Homo sapiens: one gene and its partner. The protein of the gene in region 1 purifies or fractionates together with the protein of each later gene. This does not show direct contact. Each region holds a gene or a part of one and is shown in the gene's direction. Other genes may lie near its edges.

Region 1 (2,674 bases):
TGCCATTGCACTCCAGCCTGGGTGAAAAAGAGCCAGAAAGAAAGGAAAGAGAGAAAAGAGAAAAGAAAGAGAGAAAAGACAGAAAGACAGGAAGGAAGGAAGGAAGGAAGGAAGGAAGGAAGGAAGGAAGGAAGGAAGCAAGGAAAGAAGGAAGGAAGGAAAGAAGGGAGGGAAGGAAGGAGAGAGAAAGAAAGATTGTTTGGTAAGGAGTAATGACATTCTCTTGCATTTAAAAGTGGCATATTTGCTTGAAATGGAAATAGAATTCTGGTCCCTTTTGCAACTACTGAAGAAAAAAAAAAGCAGTTTCAGCCCTGAATGTTGTAGATTTGAAAAAAAAAAAAATTGGAGCTATTGAGAGATCTGCCTCTGTAGGAGTATGGTCCCAGGCCCACAAAGTTAAAGTGCATCAGCCACAAATATGTGTCCATTTGAGTTTTGGTTCTGAGAATACTCCTCATAAAGATATAGAATCACTCCCTCCTCCTAACTCGCAAAAGGCTGAACAGTGTATAGTATGTTACATTTAAATAAAAACAATAAAAATGTTGGGAAAAGAAAATTAAAATATTGTCCTTGTTTGTTTTATTAGTCAGAAACTCTACCTGGTAATAAAGAGAGAAGCTCAAGTGTGTGCATGGCAGGATGTGGTTAAATGCCCCACAGCCCCAAACAACAACAACAGAAAAAAAAATTACTCAAACATTTGTAAGTTTTCTCTAATGTTTCACATGTGTGAGTTAGCTATCTTTACTCTAATAACAACCAAATGCTTTCAATCTTTTCTAAATATTCAGGTCCACCTAATTTACACAGTGGATAAAGAAAAATGAATTGGAAACGAGGATGGCTTATGAAACAATGGAAGACTTTTGGAGGAAAGCCAGGTGGCTGCAGAATCTGATTTCAAGGGGATGAATGACCAATGAATTTGATTTGAAAATTAGAGAGAAAAAATACATAATAATGCAAGTTGCTTCCAGGGCCCAAGCAAGTTTATGAACCCAATTTACATAGATCAGCATTAATGCTGCACAGTTCTAATAATTTGGATGCTGCCAATTCAAGGTTTGTGATTATTCAGTGAAGTAAAATTTACCTTTTTCATATTACTGAAGGGTTCAGCTGGTCCAAACTTTGTCTAAATAAAGTTATATATGTAGCTTAAAATATTTAAGAGAAGATGTCTAGTACATTAGAAGTAGGACATATACATGCAAACAGATACCATATTGATTAAGAGTTCTTGTTTATTTCATGAAGCAGGACTTTTCCAACTTAAACTGAAAAAAAAATAAAAAGGAAGAGGAATATCTTTGAAGGATGCTCAGGAGAAAAAGGAACTCTGAGTTCTATGAGTACTTAGAAATGAAGTAACGAAGATCTGCTTCTTCTCAGACATTCATTTTCTGTTACCCTTCATTGGTTTTATTTGGTTAGGCCAGATTGCTTCTAGTCTACTTCTTTCCTACTCCAAAACCCAAAACCCCAAACTCCTTTACTACAAGATCCAAAAAGGTAAACATCCTAGATATAACTCTTATTGGCCAGGTTTGGATAACATACCAACCTCTAGACCAATCAGTATAAGAGATTTGGGAATTGTGATTGACCAATCTTCAGTGACATGACCACAGAGAGGCAAGGTGAAGATTTTGGCAGCCCACACAACCGCAACTAGTGAAGAAGAGTACACCAAGGAGACAGCAGTGCTGCAGGTGCAAAAACCAAATGGTTGTTTGCTACATCTTATTAAATGAAGCTGTGACATAAAAACATTTTCTATTCCTATATTTCCCACCAATTCCAATTATTCTTCACCTGTTTGTTTGTCCAAGTTAGAGAGGTTTTAAGATCATTCTCTTTCATATGTTCTTTACCATTGAAAGATTACATTTGCATTGTTTTGTTTTAAGCCAAGAGTAGGGCCCTGGATATAGCTAGGCTCACTGTGGTTTTGCAAACTTTATATTGGGATGAATGCAAGTTTTCACTGAATAAAAAGCTGGTCCTCCTACTTCAACCTGTATCACAATATGATGTTATAAATGTTTCTTTCAGTTTATCCCAAGAGTATGTGCTAGTATTTTCAAGTGTATCGACATATAGAAAAAATCTGAAACCCTGATGTCATTCATTGTTTAAGTGTAAAATAAAAAAAAAACAGAAAAAAACCTGCTTTGTCTTTTACTACATTCAACATGTGACAAAAGAAAACTTTATCACCTAAACTTTATCTATTTGTCTTTTTGCAGAATAGTAAAATAAAACACAAAATGCCCTTGCAAGTGAATAATCTTTGGAAAACACCTTCATAAATACCATGTATTAGTTAAAATGGAATAATCATGATCAAACTAATGAGGTCAAACGAATTGGTCTTGTTCCTAAGTGGCTAATAATGAACATTTCCATGAGCCTGTTCCATGATAGCAACAAAGGGCAACAATTCCATAAACAGAGAAAAGCCACATGCCAAACATACATGCACGTGGCACGTATTATCTTACACATTTTTATTATCCGCCACAAAAGAGTCCATGTTCATTGTTTAATACAGGCAATTGCATCCTCTAGAGATCAGCACAACAAATGAAGGATCAAAACACCCCATGTTCCTCATTACAACTGTAAATTGAACATATGCCTTCATACAACTTAGGCAGTGACCCCA
Region 2 (7,792 bases), on another chromosome or scaffold:
CTCTACTAAAAATACAAAAATTAGCTGGGCATGGCAGAGTGCACCTGTAATCTCAGGTACTCGGGAGGCTGAGGCGAGGAGAATTGCTTGAACCCATGAGGCAGAGGCTGCAGTGAGCTGACATGGCACCACTGCACTCTAGCCTAGGCAACAGAGCAAGACTCCATCTAAAAAAATAAAAATAAATATGTAGAGACCAGGTCTTGCTATATTGCCCAGGTCTCAAATTCCTGGCCTCAAGTGATCCTCCCGACTTGACCTCCCAAAGTGTTGGGATTACAGGTGTGAGCCACTGTGCTGACCTGTTTTAACACTACTACTAGTAACTAGCACTTAGTTAGCACCTAATGTGTTCCAGGAACTGCTCTAAGTCCTTCATACATACTCATAGGTGAGTATTATTTGTTATTCCCATTTTTCAGATGAGGACGTTGAGGCATACAGAGATTTGCCAAAAGTCATGAACCCAGCTCGTTAGTCAAAGAGGCAGGCCAGGGAAGGGGTTGATGACGACGCTGCCGACTCACACTGTTCAGTCCATTTTCCATCGTTACCGCCAACCTCGGCCCTGTATCTTGACCCTACTCCACTTCTCTAGCCACAGCCTGGCATGGTACTTAATGTGGAGAAAGTCTGTTTTCTATACGTATTTGAGCTGTGATACCTTCCTTCTGATTGTAAAGATATTTTCTTATAGCTTCTTCAAGGATTGTCTATTTGAATTTCCAAAGATGACATTCAATTACTCTGCTACATCTTTTCCCCTCTCTTGGCCACATGACTTAACCACTCTGAGCCTCACTTTCATCATCTTTTAAATTAGAGGATCCAGCTAGATAACCTCTAACATCCCTGGTGGCTCAGATATCCAAACACACTCTTCGCCCTGTTTACACCTTGGAGGGAGCCACAATTACTCATATGAAGGTGCTTCCCAGCCTGTACCTGAAATACCAGCACCAGATCTTAGTGTGATCGTGAGACCACTTCCAGATGAGACCCCTTCCTCGCCAGAAAACACCCAGACACCCTGGGAGGAACAGCAAAAGCTGCTACACTGGAATTGACCTATCGTGGCTGGTCACATGTCTACTCTACTCTCGATTTCTCTACTCTGGCAATGGATTTGAATTTGAACTTCAGAGGTAAGGAACACAGAATAGGAAAGAACTGAAATGGCTCAACAGCAAAGCCACGTTTCCATGGCTTAAGAACCAATGAGAGAATCCGTTCCATGCTCTCTAACTTCCCATTTTTGGCTTGTGATACTGCTATTCAGTTTCAAATATTTTTCTTTTGAAACATCTTTATGTTCTGGCCTCAAATGATACAAACCCACACCTGGCCAGGCACAGTGGCTCACATGTAATCCCAACACTTTGGGAGGCCAACATGGGTGGATTACTTGAGTCCAGGAGTTCAAGACCAGCCTGGGCAACATGGTGAAACCTCACATCTACAAAATATACGCTCACACAAAAATCAGCTGGGTGTGGTGGTGTGCACCTGTAGTTTCAGCTACTCAGGAGGCTGAGATGGGAGGATTGCTTGAGCCCAGGAGGTTGAGGCTGCAGTAAGCCATGATTGCATCACTGCACTCCAGCCTGGGTGATAGAGTGAGACCCTGTCTCCATTAAAAAACTAAAACAGGCTGGGCGCGGTGGCTCAAGCCTGTAATCCCAGCACTTTGGGAGGCTGAGGCGGGTGGACCACGAGGTCAGGAGATCGAAACCATCCTGGCTAACATGGTGAAACCCCGTCTCTACTAAAAATACAAAAAATTATTCAGGCGTGGTGGCAGGCACCTGTAGTCCCAGCTGCTCGGGAAGCTGAGGCAGGAGAATGGCGTGAACCCGGGAGGCGGAGCTTGCAGTGAGCCAAGATTGTGCCACTGCACTCCAGCCTGGGCAAGAGAGAGACTCCATCTAAAAAAAAAAAAAAAAACAGAACCAAAAAAAACACACCTCTGCATTACAGAGGACAAAAAAATGTAGCAGAGTAATCAAATATCATCTTTGGAAATTCAAACAGACAATCCTTGAAGAAGATGTAACAAAATGTCTTCACAATCAGAGGAAGCCATCACAGCTCAACTATGTGTAGAAAACAGACCTGCTCCATGTTATGTGCAACCTGACCCACCAAACAAGCAGGTCAGGGTCAAATATAGCTATTTTTCTGGTGAATTCATCCAGCTTTGACTTTGGACTTTTACAAACATGCTCTTTCACAATGACAGGGCTGGAGCTGAATGCTATAAATGTGAGGCAGCTATTGTTATACTGTCAGCTAAACCACAATGACTTACACTCAGTGATGAATCTCAAGTTTGTTGATATTTCCCAGAGTTCCCAATGAGTACTAAATGTTATCTCTTTGTTCAAACATTATGAAATATTGTGATTTTTTTTCTTGTAGATTTCCTACTGATTTTCACATACGTGAAAGTGAATATTCTTGTGGCATTTATGGTAGTGATTTCCATCCTAGAAATCAGTGGATATATTCAATTCACCACGTCACAGCTGCCCAGGCATGATGGGAGGGGTTGGCAGTGGGGTGGGGAGTGCAAGGGGAAAGGGTCTCAGGTTCAAGACTCAGTAGCCTGAATACACAGCCTACGCGGTCGTGCTTCTGAACATTGAGAGAGAGAGCAAATGTTGTTTTGTTTTGTTTTGTTTTCAAGAATTTGGGATCAGGCTGAGCACAGTGGCTCACGCCTATAATCCCAACACTTTGGGAGGCTGAGGCAGGTGGATTACTCGAGGTCAGGAGTTTGAGACCAGCCTGACCAATATGGTGAAACCCCATCTTTACTTTAAAAAAAATAATACAAAGTTAGTTGTGGTGGTGCACGCCCGTAATTCCAGCTACTTGGGAGGTTCAGGCAGGGGAATCGCGTGAACCTGGGAGGTGGAGGTTGCAGTAAGCCAAGATCATGCCATTGCGCTTGAGTCTGAGCCACAGAGTGACGCTCCCTCTCAAAAAAAAAAAAAAAAAAGGACTTTGGGATCTGAAGACAGAGTATCAGCATGGAAAAAAGTCCAGCCTGCTTTTGGTTTGGTTTATTCTGAGATAATTCTGAATATCAGATTAAAATAATCAGAAAGGAAATGATCAATGGAAGGAGGTATGATTTTGAAAGTCACTGCTGTTTTTGGGAGAACATGCCATTGGGTTTTTTATTATTTATTTATTTTTTTCTTTTGAGACCAAGTCTTGCCCTGTTGCCCAGGTGGAATGCAGTGGCGTGATCTCAGCTCACTCTAACCTCCGCCTCCCCAGTTCAAGCAATTCTCATGCCTCAGCCTCCCAAGTAGCTGGGATTACAGGCGCATGCCACCACACCTGGCTAATTTTTGTATTTTTAGTAGAGACGGGGTTGCACTATGTTGGCCAGGCTGGTCTCAAACTCCTGACCTCAGGTCATCCACCCGCCTCAGTCTCCCAAAGTGCTGGGATTACAAGTGTGAGCCACCGCGCCCAGCTGCCATTGGGTCTTAATTCTCCAGAAACAGTATCTCAGTCAAGAATGCAAAGCTGTGGCAGGATTTTTCCATGAGGGGTCCACTGAGGCACTCACTGGCCAAGGTGGGCGCTCAACTAGTCCAACCTAGGCAAGGGAGGGGAGAATCTGTTTTCTCCCTTCCATTATTTCAGAAGTTATGTTTCTCCAGCAGACACACGGCTGTGCAATTTCGAAGACTGAGGGGAAACTAGGGAGGAAAATGCAGAAAACTCTCTGTTGCATGCCCTGTGAATTGGGCTTTAAATGTAGCAAGGAGCTCCAGGATCCCAGAAGTTGGCCTGGGGTGCTTGGTCCTGAGGATAAGACAACCTCCCTTGTATTGTAATTCTGCCCACAGCTGGAGCTTCCTATTTCAGTGTTGCATCCAAGAAGTTACATTTCCTGTTTGTTGCAAGAAAAATAGAATCTGACCAGGATGGAGGCTAGGCATGGGGGCTCACATCTGGAATCCCAGCAGTTTCGGAGGCTGAGGCAAGCAGATAGCTTGAGCCCAGGTGTTCAAGACCAGGATGAGCAACATGATGAAATCCCATCTCTACAAAAAATAGCCAGGCAGTGTAGTGCACACCTGTAGTCCAGCTACTCTGGAGGCTGAGGTGGGCAGATTGCTTGAGCCGGGGGAAGTTGAGGCTGCAATGAGCTTTGATCTCACCACTGCACTCCAATTCTGAGACTGGGGAGTATTGATTTGCCACTGACCTGAGCCCGGCTGATAGGGGCAGCAGGACAGACACTGTTACCTTAATCAAAGACATTCACGAAGCATTCTCACTGAAGATCTGCCCTAGTATCCTGCACAGCCACTTGCCTGGGTCTTTATAGGTAACAGGTAGACAGTCATCAAAGAGATAGGGGAAAACATGCACAATGAATTCTTTGCTCAGAAAAACCCTTCTGTGTCTTCTCCCACTTTTTCTAAATTTTTCCTGCTTTCATTTAGATCAAAGGATTTTGTTTCTTGGAATAGTTCTGCACTTGGTCCTTTAGAAAGGATGACAATTATCTGTAGGTCTCTCTGATTTTAAGATCAATAGAAATCAGCAAAAGCCAAAAAATAAAAAATAAAAATAAAATAAAAGCACACAAGCACATTCAAGCACATCCATCTGCCCCTGACTTGTCCTCACAGTAAGCAACTGCTTCTGACTTTGCTGTTTGAATAACCTCTGGGTGTTCGATCCACCCACACAGCTCAAGTTTGAGCTCCAGAACAAATATTTGTCCCAATTTTGAACAAAGTTAGAGAGTTTTTTCTTCTTTTTTCTTCTTTCTTAAAGCGAACTGTACTCCTCTGCTGTTCCTTTGAACTTGGTTCAGTAGGAAGAAGTGATATCCTCCCCAGACCATCTGCTTTGGGGAGCTTGGCAAAACTGTCCAGCAAAATGAAAAGACTCACGTGCTTTTTCATCTGCTTCTTTCTTTCTGAAGTATCAGGCTTCGAAATCCCCATAAATGGACTTTCTGAAGTAAGTACTTACAGATCACTCCTTGCTGTTGGCTTGTTCATGAGCTCAGTAAATCATCTATTGGAATCGCTATTCAATGGCCTTATTCTGTGTGTAATGGAAACTTAAGATAAAATTCATCTGAGTGCAAGTGTTTACTGTTATAATTACTGGAATGTATATTTACCTTTTAAAGCATTAACAGGTTTTGCATGAAAATTAAGTCAAGATCAATGGGCAGGCATCAGAGCGTAGCATTTATGGAGCAGAGCTGCTCACTCCTCACCTAAAAAATTGGGGGTAAGAATAGACCTAACCCAATGGTTTGCTTTGAGAATTAAATGACACAGTGTAAACTCTTCTAGCAGAGCGCCTGGACTAGTAAGTGCTTAATAATTACTAGCTGTTATGATGATGAAGAAATATTATCACTCTTTTACTAAGAGTATAAGAAAAGTCATTATCAAAGCACACTGTTTTTCATATCTAAGTGAACAGTGATATTTGTAATAAGAGCACTTTAAGTATTCCTATTAAAGCGGAAGATAGCAGGCAGGGTGGAAAAGTACAAGAATAATTCCCATGGAGTACAGGTCTCCACTTTTGTCCCTTAGCCATCTCCAATGTAAGGAAAGTCTTGGACTGAAAGTCTGTTTCTGAAAGTCATACAAGAGCTATTTTTATGCCAGAAAAGCGAAGCATGTTATGGGAACATCCCAGCAAATGCAAAGGCTTATAATACTTGCAGAGTGGATTACCTATAAAAATGCCAGAGAATATGACGGCATATTTACAAAGGGAAAATATCACTCTGTCTGCTTTGAAACTATCATATTTTCCAACACTTAAAAGCCACCAGAGTGTGTTAGAAATCTCAAATTGAAGCCAAGACATCCAAATGTGTTTGTGCTTTTTCAGTCATTTCTAACTGGCATTTCCTTTTAGAAAATACCTACATTTTTAACTTGGGGAGATGTATGGTTCATGTCTGTCCAGTCAGACACTGCAAATGCCTCCAGGGTCTACCCAGATACTTCCCCAGACACCCACCTAATCACTGGGTTGTTTTGATCTCTGTCTTACCACCTGCTGGCAAACTCAAAAATGAATTCCCATGTCCAACAAATGCGAAGGTGTTGTTACCCTCCATTTGGACACCTCTGAGACGTAACCAGCAAATAGAAATATACTAAAGAAATCATTTTATACAAAATTGTGATTGCCCAGAGGTAGAGGAAAGAATATAAAATAATGAATACCAACAGCTATCTCTTTGGCTCTAGATCTTTTGGAAATCATCATTCTCAGCAAAGTAACACAAGAAGGGAAAACCCAACACCGCATGTTCTCACTCATAAGTGGGAGTCGAACAACGAGAACACATGGACACAGGAAGGGGAACATCACACACTGGGGCCTGTCAGGGGGTGGGGGGCTAGGGGAGGGATAGCATTAGGAGAAATACCTGACGTAAATGATGAGTTAATGGGTGTAGCAAACCAACATGGCACATGTATACCTATGTAACAAATCTGCACGTTGTGCACATGTACCCCAGAACTTACAGTATAATTAAAAAAAAAAAAGTTAAAATCCTAATTTTTTTTAAGTTTGTAGACTATGAAGATCTTGTGGAACTGGCCCCAGGCAAATTTCAATTGGTGGCAGAGAACCGGAGATATCAGGTATAGTAAGGTTTACTCCCAAAAGGGGGAAAAAAAGTGAAAGAGATTATGGCAGAAGAAGACAAGTGTTAAGATGCCTTCTGCTAGATTTTCTTAAGAGTTTGTTTTTTAGCACAGAAGAGTCCAGACTTCTTACACCTTGGTGGAAGAGATCACCCAGGTGAAATAAAAAGAGAAACTCACACAACTGCTCAGCAGCCTTCACACCATAATGCTCAATTTAGTCCCTTAAAGAGTACACGACTCAGCACAGTGGCTCCCACTTATAATCACAGCATTTTCAGAGGCCAAGGAGGGAGGATCACTTGAGGCCAGGAGTTCCAGATCAGCCTGGGTAACATAGTGAGGCTCTACCTCTGCCACCCAGCTAATATATATATTAGCTGGCATGCACCTGTAATCCCAGCTATTTGAGAAGCTGAGATGGAGGATCACTTGAACCCAAGAGTTCGAGGCTGCAGTGAGCTATGATTGCACCAGCCTGGGCAACAGAGGGAGACGCTGTCCCCACTCCATTTAAAAAAAAAAAAAAAAAAAAGAATACATGGCTATGTGTTTTCTTCAAAACTTAAGATTCCGAAATTATTTCCTGCCTTGCCGGAAGGATTTCCTGTTAGGAAGACTTTTCTTATTTTAGCGATGACAGACACTCCCCCTTGCAGCCTCACAATCTCCTTCCTCTGGTCACTCTGAGGGCACCTGAGAAGGAGAATTGGCCACATTGGAAGTTGCAATCCTGGCGGCCACCAGCAGCAGTATAGACAAAACCCTCTAATTAAGGGGGTGAGTTTTCCAGAACACCAGGAAGGGCTTGGCTTCTTCCCCACGGAGCCCACATGCTGAGAGAGGAGGTATTTACGGAAGCAGCAACCCTAAGCTGATCAATGTCTTATTTTGTATGGGTGTGAATTTTTTACTTTCTGAAAATCCAGGATTTTTTTTTGTAGACTAATAATATTAAAATCCAATAAGCAAGACTTCATGTCACAATTTATTTAGCCACAAGAGAGAAAAATTTGTCATTGAGCATTGCATTCAAGAAGTCTACAAGAAGAGGTCAACCATTGACCTCACCATGTCACACAGCACAGAACCTCAGTTCACCCCGAATCAGGCAAGCTGAGCTTATATCC

Evidence for each region.
Region 2: the proteins of FGF10 (region 1) and ITIH2 purify together in Homo sapiens (affinity purification with mass spectrometry; 3 studies listed by BioGRID and IntAct, with this or other methods). This does not show direct contact.

The regions. Positions count from the first base shown.
Region 1 is NC_000005.10:44,299,747-44,302,420, reverse strand, and holds the end of FGF10 (fibroblast growth factor 10 precursor), read left to right. Parts: 3' UTR 1-2,174; downstream 2,175-2,674. UniProt on the Homo sapiens protein: Plays an important role in the regulation of embryonic development, cell proliferation and cell differentiation. Required for normal branching morphogenesis. May play a role in wound healing.
Region 2 is NC_000010.11:7,698,524-7,706,315, forward strand, and holds the start of ITIH2 (inter-alpha-trypsin inhibitor heavy chain H2 precursor), read left to right. Parts: upstream 1-4,792; 5' UTR 4,793-4,911; coding exon 4,912-4,995; intron 4,996-6,584; coding exon 6,585-6,659; intron 6,660-7,792. UniProt on the Homo sapiens protein: May act as a carrier of hyaluronan in serum or as a binding protein between hyaluronan and other matrix protein, including those on cell surfaces in tissues to regulate the localization, synthesis and degradation of hyaluronan which are essential to cells undergoing biological processes.